2 separate regions of the Homo sapiens genome follow, and region 1 is linked to region 2. The links come from fine-mapping of genetic effects on gene expression. A gene starts in region 2. The other region holds a variant in brackets. All regions are shown on one strand. Distances are between the middles of the regions.

Region 1 (5,368 bases), 340 kb before region 2:
AGCCCTTCCCCAGTTGACGGAAATGCCCTTATTTCCAGCGTCCACTTGCAACATCCCTGGATGTGCCTCCTTAGGCACCACGGGTTCTCTGGGGAATCAAAACCAGAAGTGAAGTTACTGGGCCCTGAGACACATGCATTTTCACAGGGCATGAGAACAGCCAATTTCCTTCCACCTTGACAGCTCATGAGATTATCAAACTAATTTTTGCCAGTTATGTAGGTGAATAAAACAATATCTCATCGTTGATTTAATTTGCATTTCCTTGATTACTAGTAAGGTTGTGCATCTTTTTTTATGGCAGATGCCTATCTATATCCTTTTCAGTAAACTCATATCCTTTGGCCATTTTCCTATTTGGTTGGTTATGTTTTCTTATTAATGTGATCTGTTGTTTTATATTGTAGGCACTCCCTCCAAGACAGACTTCTCTGTGGAAGCAGCATATTGGAGGCCTGCTAGGACAGTTCACAGGAATGGCTGTGGAGGGCTGCAGGCATGTCTCTAATCAGAACCTGCTTGTCTTTTTGATTGACAGCTGCACTTTCTCCACCAAGAAGTGGGTACTGTGCAAGTTATGGTCATAGTGAAGGTGGGGGACATGGTAAGTCCTTATTGTGCAGACAGTCATTTCCTGTTTTCAATCCCACCTGTAAATGGAATCTCCACTGGGGAGATACCCCGATTCTGGGGCAGTCCCAGTAAGGATCTGCTTCTGGGAGTGGGGGAATCCAGCATGAACACCCAGAAATATACTACAGCAGGGAGATCAGCACTGGTCCTTAAGCTAAGAAAAAGGGTAGCCACACACTGTCACTCAGACATGTGTGCTGAACAGAGCACAGGTGAAGTGGTGTGCAGGAAACACTAAAGACCACATCAATGCATTCTTCTAAGAGCACAGGGTGCTGTGCCCCTGGCATGGAAAGCAGCACAGGGAGTGGGGGAGCCTCCCTGATGGTGGGCAGGAGCCTCCCCAGGAGGCCGGAGAATTGGACAGAGGAGGAGCTGGCTGCAGTGCAGTCTCACTGAGGGCCTCTGCCAAACTCACCGAGCTCTGGGGCTGGAGTGGGCTTAGAACATGTCCCATATTGAGGGGAAGGGGCTGGGCCTTTCAGCCCTGCACTTTCCAGGGAAGGGGGAGCCTTGATAGAGGCAGCTCCATTCAGCAGAGGGCGATGCCTGGGGACAGCTTGGCTGTGGTCCTCAGCAGCCAGCAATCCCAACCAGATACTAAGCAGCTCTGTCGGAAGGGGACACGTCCCAGTGTCTGCACGCTCTGATAGCTCCTGTCTCCTTCAGAGCAGAGCCAGGCTCACAGTGACTGTCAAGCCCTGTCTGCTGCTGCCTCTATGACCTCCTCTTCCCCAGCTGTCCCTCTCTTTCCCTTTCATGCACTCTAAACTGGCCCAGCCCCGCTGTCCCTGGACCATGCCAAGCATTTTCTGGCCTTGGACTCTGGCTGGAATGTCCCCCACCTATCTCATAACAGCATGACTTGGTTCTTGTCTTCTTCCCCTTCTTGTTGAAATGTTCCCTTCTCTAGAGATGTACTCTAACCACCCTGCTTAATGGGGGGACCATTCCCCAGGTATCCTCTGTCCTTCTAACCCTGCTTTATGATTTTCCACAACATTTCTCACCACCAGACAGATCTCATTCATTCGTGAACTCCCTCTCCCTGGGAGAATGGAAGCCTGAGAGCAGGCATTTCTGTGCCCTGTTCACTGCTGGGTCTCCCGGGCCTGGAGCAGGACCTGTCTTGTGGTGGCCGTGTGACAGTGTTCACTGTATGAGTGAATGAACAAATGAATGAATGAACGGAAGACAGGAGGGAACTGCAGGCAGTGGACAGACTCAGATTCTTCTATGGCCATGGAATTCGCTGCATCAGAGCCACAAATACAAATGTCGCTGTGCCGTGAAGGCAAGCTTGGCTTTCTGTGTCAGAGACTTGCTAAGAACATAGCCCATGTCCTTTCTAAATTGTCCCCAGAAGTGTGGGTAGGACACAGCCATGTGATATATCTGGAGGAAAAGTTCAGACTAACAAAATTCCACTTGGAGACCAGGGTGCTGGCCAACAGCGGCACCAAACATCCCTAAAGTCATGTATAGATGGACAATGGACAATGTTTAGTGAGTGTGTCAGGGAGGAAGCAGAGCTGACCAAAACCCCAGGTCTCGCCTCCAACCATGGCTGATGAAATTGGCCTTACCAAGCGTCAGAAGAAGACTCTATCTTATTCAGGTGAACAGTAAGGAGACCCACCTTTGTAACGAGGGGACCAGCGGTGGCAGCCCTTCTCACATGGAGTGCCCAGTGATTCAGTCACACATGGGCCCAGGTGCTGCTGGGAGGTGTTTTGTAGATGTGGTTAACGTCTGCAATCTGTTGACTTTATGTACAGGAGATGATCCCGAATGAGCTGCATAGGCCTCATCGAATCAGTGGAAAGCCTTGAGAACAGAGCCAAAGTTTCTCTGAGGAAGGGGAAATTCTACCTGTAGACAGCAGCTTCAGTTCCTGCTGCAGTTTCCAGCCTGCCCTTCCTGATGTCCTTCCCTGTGGATTCCAGATTTGCCAGCCAGTCCTCATAGCCACATAAGCCAATTGCTTGTAATAAATCTCCTAGTGTTAATGATCCTTTAATAATATACATATAAATAATATATCCTAGTATTAATAAATCAATCTCCCTCTCTCCATCTCTCTCTCTCTCTCTCTCTCTC[T/A]CTCTCACACACACACACACACACACACACACACACACACACACGTCTTACTAGTTCTACTTCTCTGGTGGAACCTTGACTGATATAGATGAGTAACCAGAAAAAATTTAACGTGGAGAGGGGGCTTGACCAGATGTTTTACCAATCTGTATAGACAACTTTCCAAAATGTGGTCAGTCAGGACACAGTCATCAGTAGTCTAATCAGGTGGACTTAACTATCTAAGGCCAAAGCACAGCCAGCCAGTGTCATAGATCTGGATGGCACAATCAGTATAGCAGCTGTCCAGAACACAGCTGACCAGGCAGGATGGATTAAAGCCACAATGTAGAAGACAAGATGAAGACAGGCAATTGTCCTGGACGTGGCTGTCCAAGAAGACAGTCATGGGGGAAATGGCCAGTGTTTCCCAGGATCTGAGTGGCCAGTCCATAGTCATGAGGCTAAAACCAAAAAGGATTCACTGTCCACGACACTATGGCCAAGAACATAGTTCTCAAGGGCAAAGCCAGTGTAGACAGAGCGGATAGGACATCAATGACCAAGAACAAGTCCCAAGGATGCACAGCCAATGCCAACATGTAGATGGTTCTAAACTGTACAGGATACTCATGGCCATGCATAACCTTGAGGGAAGTGTCCTTGAGACAGCCACCATGTGTACTTGTGCTAGAGGTAGGCTGTGGTTTATTTTTCTCATTTATCCAAGAAGCTATTTTTGTTCATTAAAACCTAGTTACTTGCTGTATCTAGCCAGGATCCTGGAGTGCTCGCTTGGTTAATTTAAGCAAGCAGAGCTTTGACAAAGTAATTTTATTGTCCTCTGGGATTGGCCAGCTTATGCCAAGCCTCACTCTTTCTGTTGAAATGGAGTTAATTTTCGCTGAAATTGCTTCTTAGCAGACAAACATATTCCCCATCATTGAGGGCTTATGCTTCTGCAGCTCTATTATTCCTTAATTTACACACTCGGCAGCATAGGATCCATGCCCAAGACAGACAGAGACTCCTGCAGGTGGAGGAAGGCGGAGAAGACGGCAGCCCCTGTTCAGCTCCTCATACCTGGTTAGAATTAGCCGTTAGCAATTAGTCATCAATCATCCAATCAGTCTGTGCAGCCAGAGCCCCCAGTGTGCCCAGCTCTGTGCCAACCACAGCAAGAGGATGCAAGGAGGAGGGGTTCCCTGTCTGAAGAACCCAGTTTATTTGGGGAGGTGAGACTCAGACATGGGACTCAGAATTGACACAACACAATATTAGCTCAGACTTTGGCTCTGGTCCAAGACATGGAATAATGGAGCGACTTGCTGATGGGACATGAAAAGATGGAACGGTCTGAAAAAGAAGGAAAGAGAATGGCCCTTGGAGGGGACCTGTCATAGAGGAGCCCTGAAACTTCTGGTAAACCTTCAGGGAGGGGCTGCAAAAGTGGGCAGAATAGGATGGACTGGGTAAATGGGTCTAGGAGGAGCACAGTGGCAATCAGTGTTCTTCAGAGTAAGGAAGGACAGGAAGTGTTCAGGACAGGGCAAAGGCCAGGACTGGGGTCAAGACCATGACAATTAAGCCAGCATCTGAGTCACTATCATTGCTGGCCTTAGAGTCATGAAGGGCATTCAAGGTGAGATCAAGGCTAGAGGAAGGGCAGCTTGGCCCACAGCTGATGTCATGGCCAGCACCACGGAGAGCTCCCGTAGGTTCTGGTGCCTCCCACACCCAGTGGGCATAAATATTCAGATCCCAGTTGTAGAAGCAGAAATAAGTAAGCCCATGTTCTTTCATTCAGCCTTGGCTAGGAAATATAACTGAAGCAGAAGACATGGGCTTTGCCTAGCAGCTAATGAAGAACCTTGAAAAAAAAAAGGGAGTCTGTTGACACAGATGCTTTGAGAAGACAAGCAATAAGCTAGCCATTACATCTTGTTAGATGGATTAGGAGAACACTGGGGAATATTTGCATACCAATTACCATAAAATTTGAGTTCAATCTATACTTATTTTATGACTTGCCTTCAGAAAGTTGAGTTTCTGTGTACATCTGTTTGCTAAGAAGATTCATTTTCCTGTAATATTGAAATTTTTGTCATAATAGTTTCAAAAAGTGTTGACTTGTAACATTAACATTGAAGATTAAAAATGTTTATTAAAAAAAGCATTTGTTAAAATGTTTGTAGTAGGAAAGTGTTTATGCAAAGCTGCTTATTCACCTTGATAATGAACCCAAACCAAGCTGTATAAGTGTTGAGTTCCTTAATATTAGAAATATAGTAAGATGCACATTTCCATGTAAAATGTATCTGCAAGCACAACAAAATACTGTAACATACCAACTTTAAAACCCAAAGCATAATCTTTGTTCACAGAGGGTCAGGTGTATCTGGCTCCAGGCTCCAAGGAATCACACATCTGAACCTGCCCCATTCTGCTGTCTCTCTCTATGACTCTGCTGGGGCACTAAGCCCCCGCTTCCTTGGAGACCTTGCTCCTGTGCATCATGTGTTGTTGTTGTTGTTGTAGTTGTTGTTGAGATGCAGTCTCACTCTGTCACCCAGGCTGGAGTGCTGGAGTGCAGTGGTGTGATATTGGCTCAATGCAACCTATGCTTCCTGGGTTTAAGCAATTCTCGTACCTCAGC
Region 2 (5,368 bases):
GCCACTGTGGCCGGGGAAAGGCCTCAAGAGAGGACCAGGTAGCCTGGGAGCTGGTGCAGGAGGGTGGGCATTCGTGGTGGGGGTGGGGGGCAGAACAGGAGGAGCAAAGGCCTGGGGTGGGAAACACTGGCTGTGCAGAGGGCAGTAGGAACGGCTGTGGCTCTCCGGCATGGCCAGAGCTGTTCTAGGCTGAGGCAGAGCCAGAGCCAGGGCAGGGGAGGCTAGACTGGCCTTGGGATGCCGATGGGGCTAGCCAGGGAGAGAGAGGCGGAGAGAGACCCCGCGGTCTGCGTGCAGGAGCCCCAGCCCAGGGGCTCCTCTCCTGGACAGGAGGGGATCGCCGCCTGGTGGAACGCCAAGCCAACAGTGTCCCCTTCCCTTTCCTGGCCTGAGTGACACCAAAGCTCCTTCTCACCCTGAGAAACAAAGGCCCCCAAAGCCCTCCCCACAAGGAAGAGTCCAATCCCCCCAAGTCCTCCTGCGCCAGATCCTGCTATGGCTCAGGCAGGTTGGGGTGTGGGGCTGCCATCCTGCCCAGTGGCTCACAACAGCAGCCGGGGGGGAAGACAGCTGCTCCTGGCACTCCGCCTCCCCCACAACGGGGGTCATGGGAGGTGGTCCCAGTGGTTCTGCTCCCGACCAGTCCTAGGGGATCCGGCTCTGAAGGCCTTGGAGTCCTGCTCCTGAGAAAAAGTGCCTACCTTTGCAGGCCTTCCCCTGGGGCACCCGCTCCTCCCGGCCAGCTGCTCTAAGCTGCTCTGTGCACGGGGGCTTTCCTGGGGGCTCAAAACAGGCAGGCAACGACCTTGGGGGGCCAGGAGTCCAGCAAAGGGCTGTCTGCTTTGTCCACAGGCACCTCATGTGTCCCCCACCCCCAGAGCACACACTGAGGCCACAAACCCAGGCCTCCGCCCATGCTGTCCTCTGCCCAAAACGCCCTTCCTGGGCCCCACTGGCACCCCCCAGGAATGGAAGCCTGGCCCTGCAGCGAATCACTGGTTCACATGCCTGCCTCTGGCAGGGGGCTGGGTGCTCCTCAAGGGCCGGGCAGCATCTTGGTGCCCCTGGTGCAGCACCTGGCCTCTGCCGCACACCCCAAGCCGCAGGAAATCGAGGGGACCTGAGGCAAGCTCCTCAAGGGCCCGGGGAGCAGAAACTGCGCCCCATCCCTGCACCGACCCCCAAACCGGCTACGTGTGAAAGGAGATGGGGCAGCACGGAGCAGCCTGAGCCACAGGAGCCGCGCTGAGGGGACAGAGGCTCGACCACGTCCCCTCCCCGGCACACACACCCCTTTCTTTCAAGGGGCGTGGCCCCAGAACCCCACACAGGAGCCTGGGGCAGATCGCCGCCCGGGGCCGCCCCTCGGAGCCCCTCCCCTCCTTTCCAGGGCTGCACCTGGGACCTCACGCCGACCGAGGGGCCTCCCTGGAGTCCCCACTCCCCCTTCCCCTGGCAGCCCGGGATCGGCCCGCTGCCTCCAGCTTCGCCGCACATCAGGCCCGGGACTATCCAGGAAGCAATCGGAAGCCTCCGGGAGAAGCGGCTGACCCTGGAGAGGCCCCGAGAGGGGGAGGCCAAGGAGGCCCGAGCGGGGCGGCCTCCTGGGCGGCACCCAGAGCCCACCTCCCCGCACTCCGGGCCAGTGGGAGCGGTGGCAGCTGTGGTCGGGAAGCCGCTCCAACTTCCACCCCGCGCCCCAGGGCCGGCCGGGGGCTTAGCCTGCACGACCTCCTCCGGCCCCCGCGGCCCTGCTGGGAGGCTCCGATCCCTATCCGGGCCTGGCCACCCCGTCCTCGCCCGCGGCCAGAGGTCTGAGCCGAGGTCCAGCGGCCGGGACGGGCCTGGACACCGCAGGGGCCTCCCCGCGGGGCCGCCGCAAACTTTCTCCCCAGCCTCCGTGGAGGGGCAGCGCCCGCCCCCCGCCACCCCGGAGCTGCCGCGGGGCTCGGCGGGCCCGGCCGGGGGGCGGGGGAGGCCGCGGCGCTGGATCCCGGGCCGCGGTCCCAGCCCCGCCGCACGGGGGTGCGGTCTCTCCGCGTCGGCGCCGCGACCGCGCCCGGACACACGCGGACGCCTGGGCCGGAGCCGCAGGGACACGCGGGCCGCGGACACGCGCGCCGCAGTCCCCACGCGCGCCGCAGTCCCCGCGCACACCCCCTGCCTGCCGCCTCACGAGAGGGCCGCCGCCGGAGGCCGCCCCGCGCCCACCCACGGGCCGCCCGGCCCCGGACCCCAGCCCGGCCCGGCCCCCGCCCACCGTCCCGCGCCGCGGGGAAAGTTGCGCCCCGACTCACCCGCCGCCCCGGGGCGCGCCCCGCCGCCGGCCATCGCCGCGCCCAGCCGCCCGCGCCGCCGCCGCCGTCCGCCCCGCCGCGGGGCCGCCGAAGCCGCGTAGGCCGCCCAGGCCGAGGCCGCCGCCGCGCCCGGGCTCCGCTGCGTGGCCGCGCAGCCGATGCCCAGCATGAATGGGGCGCCGAGCGCCGCGCGGCTGCGGACCGGCCTCGCTCTCGCCGCCCGCGGAGCCCCGCGCCGCGCGCATGCGCCGCCCAGAGCCCGGGGGCGGGGCGGGGGCGGGGCCGGCGGCGGCCTCCAGAGGGCGCTCTGCCCCGCGCCGCGCGCCTGCAGGGGCCCACCGCGCGTCTTCAAAGGGCGATACGGCTGCCCGCCTCAACTCTCTGGGCGCCGGGGCCGCGCGGGCAGTTCCGGGAGCCCCCCGCTCTCGAGCGGGCTAGCCCGCGACCCCAGGAACAGGGCCTGGCTCAGTGTGCCCAGGCTAGGAGCATGGCCTCCTTTCACGGGGGGGGAAACTGAGGCTGAAGGAGGCAATCGCAGTTCCCAGACCTTGCGGGGCCGGGTGTTCCCAGCTCTCGGCCTCGCGCGTTCCGCTCTGTCAGATGGGCGGGCACCTGCGCGGGGAGCCCGGGCGCCCCCTGCAGGCCCCAGGCTGGTGGCGCATTCCCGGCTGGGGACGCAGCCCAGGGAGGAAAGTCCCGCGGCAGAGGCGTGGCGAGACGCGAACTCCGGCTGTAGCGTGGGGCAGCGGATCTACACGGTGTGAGGTGTGGGGCTGCAGAATCCAGGGTGACGGGCCAGAGCTGTCCAGGCAATACCCCCAGCCTGCATGGCAAGGCTGAGGGGCAGACACCCAGCACTCAGTTACTGTACTCACAACCGCCACTCCCAGGCAGGAGGCATCCGGGAGGGCCTCCCGGTGGACGCAACCAGGCCAAGGAAGGGGAAGCCGGCAACAGGAGCATCGATAACAGAGCAGATGGGCCAGGAAAACCCCGTCGTGGGAGGGCTGAGTCCCGGCTGGGGACTTGGCCCCCATCTGTAGCCTGAGGGGTGCGGTTTTTGCTGTGTGAATCACGTCACCCCTACAGAAGAGGAACTCTCTACAGTTCACATGGTTAACAGGGAAAGGGAATGGACTCATACCGGGCCCAGGTGTCCCTCCGCGTCTCACCCCGCTCCTCCCTCCCCAGGAGCAGCCACAACCCTCATTTTTGTGTTCATCTTTAAGTGCTTTTCTTTGGGTGTGACCTCTTATATTTGCACCCCAGAATGGGACGCTGTTTTGGGTGGCTTGTTCTGGGCATTACAGAAACGGGGTCACTCAGCCTGTGCTGTTTGCTCTGTCTGCTCTGTGTGGTGAGGGCACAGGGCAGCTGCTCGCAGGCATCGTCTTCGCAGCCTGTTTTGTTGGGCTCCTGCTCGCCCATTCTCCTGCCGATGGACATGGGATTGTCGCCTATCTGGAGCCATGATGAGCAAAGCTGTGATGAGCATCCTGTGTGTGCCTCTCGGTGGGCACCTTTAGATCCAGGGACGGTCTGCAGGGTCACGGGGTAGGATTTGTCTAGCTTCAGGAGATACAGCAAAACCGTCTTCCCAAGTGACAGCCCCAGTTTACACTCCCAGCAGCTTAGCAGGAGTGTGGAAGGGTCTGGCTGTCCCACATCCTCACCAATATTTGGCACTCTTTAGTTTTGCAAATCTAGTGGCATGAACTGGTTTTTCAACTAGGTGGTTTTGCTTGTCTGCTTTTTTTTTTTAGAGACAGACAGGGTCTCGCTCTGTCACCCAAGCTGGGATGTTGTGGTGCAATCAGAGCTCACTGTAACCTCAAGCTCCTAGGCTCAAACCATCCTCCTGCCTCAGCCTCCTGAGTAGCTGGGACTACAGATGGGCACCACCATGCCTGGCTAATTTTTTTTTTTCAAGAGATGAGGTCTCTATGTTACCCAAGCTGGTCTCAAACTCCTGGGTTCAAGTGATGCTCCCACCACAGCCTCTCAAAGTGTTGTGATTAAAGGCATGAGACACGGCACCCAGCCTCATTGAGTCTTACTGTGTCGCCCAGGCTGGAGTGCAGTGGCTCGATCTCAGCTCACTGCAACCTCCACCTCCTGGGTTCCAGTGATCCTCCCACCTCAGCTTCCCGAGTAGCTGGCATTACAGGCGTGTGCCACCATGCCCAGCTAATTTTTGTTTTGCCATGTTGGCAAGGCCGGTCTCAAACTCCTGACCTCAAGTGATCTGCCCGCCTCGGCCTCCCAAAGTGCTGGGATTACAGGTGTGAGCCACCATGCCCAGCCTCATTGTGGTTTTAACTTACATGTCCCTGAATGAGGCAGAACATCTTCCTCAAAAGTTATATTTATTATTTTATTTCCCAAGCACTAATACAGTGCTGGCTCTGCTACCTTCTACAGATGGGTGGGCTGAGGCTGGAGACGTGCTCAAGTTCCCCAGTGGATAGGAGGCCGGGCTGGGAGGCTAATCCCAGGAGTCTGGCTTCTCCAGTCTGTGGTCTTGACCCAGCCACTGGGCTGTACTTCCCCTCCCTTCCCTGGCAAACAAGACTGGAGCGCTTTCTTTCCTCACGGACTACCGAGGCACACGTGTGGGCGCAAATCCATCCTCATGGCTGGTGAAGGCAGAGCAAGTCCTGACTGCTCTCCGAGCCTCGATTTCCTCATCTGTGAAATGGACGTGAGAGCTTGCAGAGCTGTGGTGAGGGACACAGTGAGTGTGGACACCATGGCTGACCTCGGGGAATGTTCACCAGCTCTTGTCTGCGCCACCTGTCACCAGCACCAGGGGCTGTCCCTGCTGTCTGCCTGTTCCCGCCCTTTTGCCCCAAGGCAGACACTCCTCAAGGAGCTTCCTGCTCTGTACTCACGGTGCCCAGGAGAGCCTAGGCCTCTCCTCTGTGGTAGAGCCCCCTGTCTCCAGCTGCGTCTTGGGAAGGTCCAGGGCCGCTGGAGTCTACGTGTCCAGGACCAAGCTCCTGGTTAACCAGGTGCCTCCCTCATTTTCCCCATCTCTGCGAAACATGCCACATCCCCCAGGTTGCCCTACT

Which allele goes with the higher level. Alleles are on the strand shown, and positions count from the first base shown. SD is a standard deviation of normalised expression in the study named.
With allele A in place of T in region 1, the expression in lymphoblastoid cells of the gene that starts at base 2,470 in region 2 is higher (large effect, 1.4 SD a copy in GEUVADIS).

Evidence for each region. PIP is the estimated chance that this variant, and not a neighbour inherited with it, causes the effect.
Region 1: its variant is fine-mapped to the expression of PLXNA1 in lymphoblastoid cells (GEUVADIS, PIP 0.95).

The regions. Positions count from the first base shown.
Region 1 is chr3:127,319,771-127,325,138 of GRCh38, reverse strand. LINC02016 (long intergenic non-protein coding RNA 2016) reads left to right here. Exons shown (of 5, transcript NR_110147.1): 4 at 408-604; 5 at 2,412-2,832. Among named protein-coding and RNA genes, the nearest start is that of PRR20G, 34 kb to the right of the region's middle. The variant T/A (reference allele first, on the strand shown) is at 2,734.
Region 2 is chr3:126,980,217-126,985,584 of GRCh38, reverse strand. PLXNA1 (plexin A1) reads right to left here and starts at 2,470. Exons shown (of 32, transcript NM_032242.4): 1 at 2,298-2,470. RefSeq lists silencers at 1,380-1,459, 2,475-2,704, 2,805-3,024 and enhancers at 3,075-3,404, 3,665-3,714.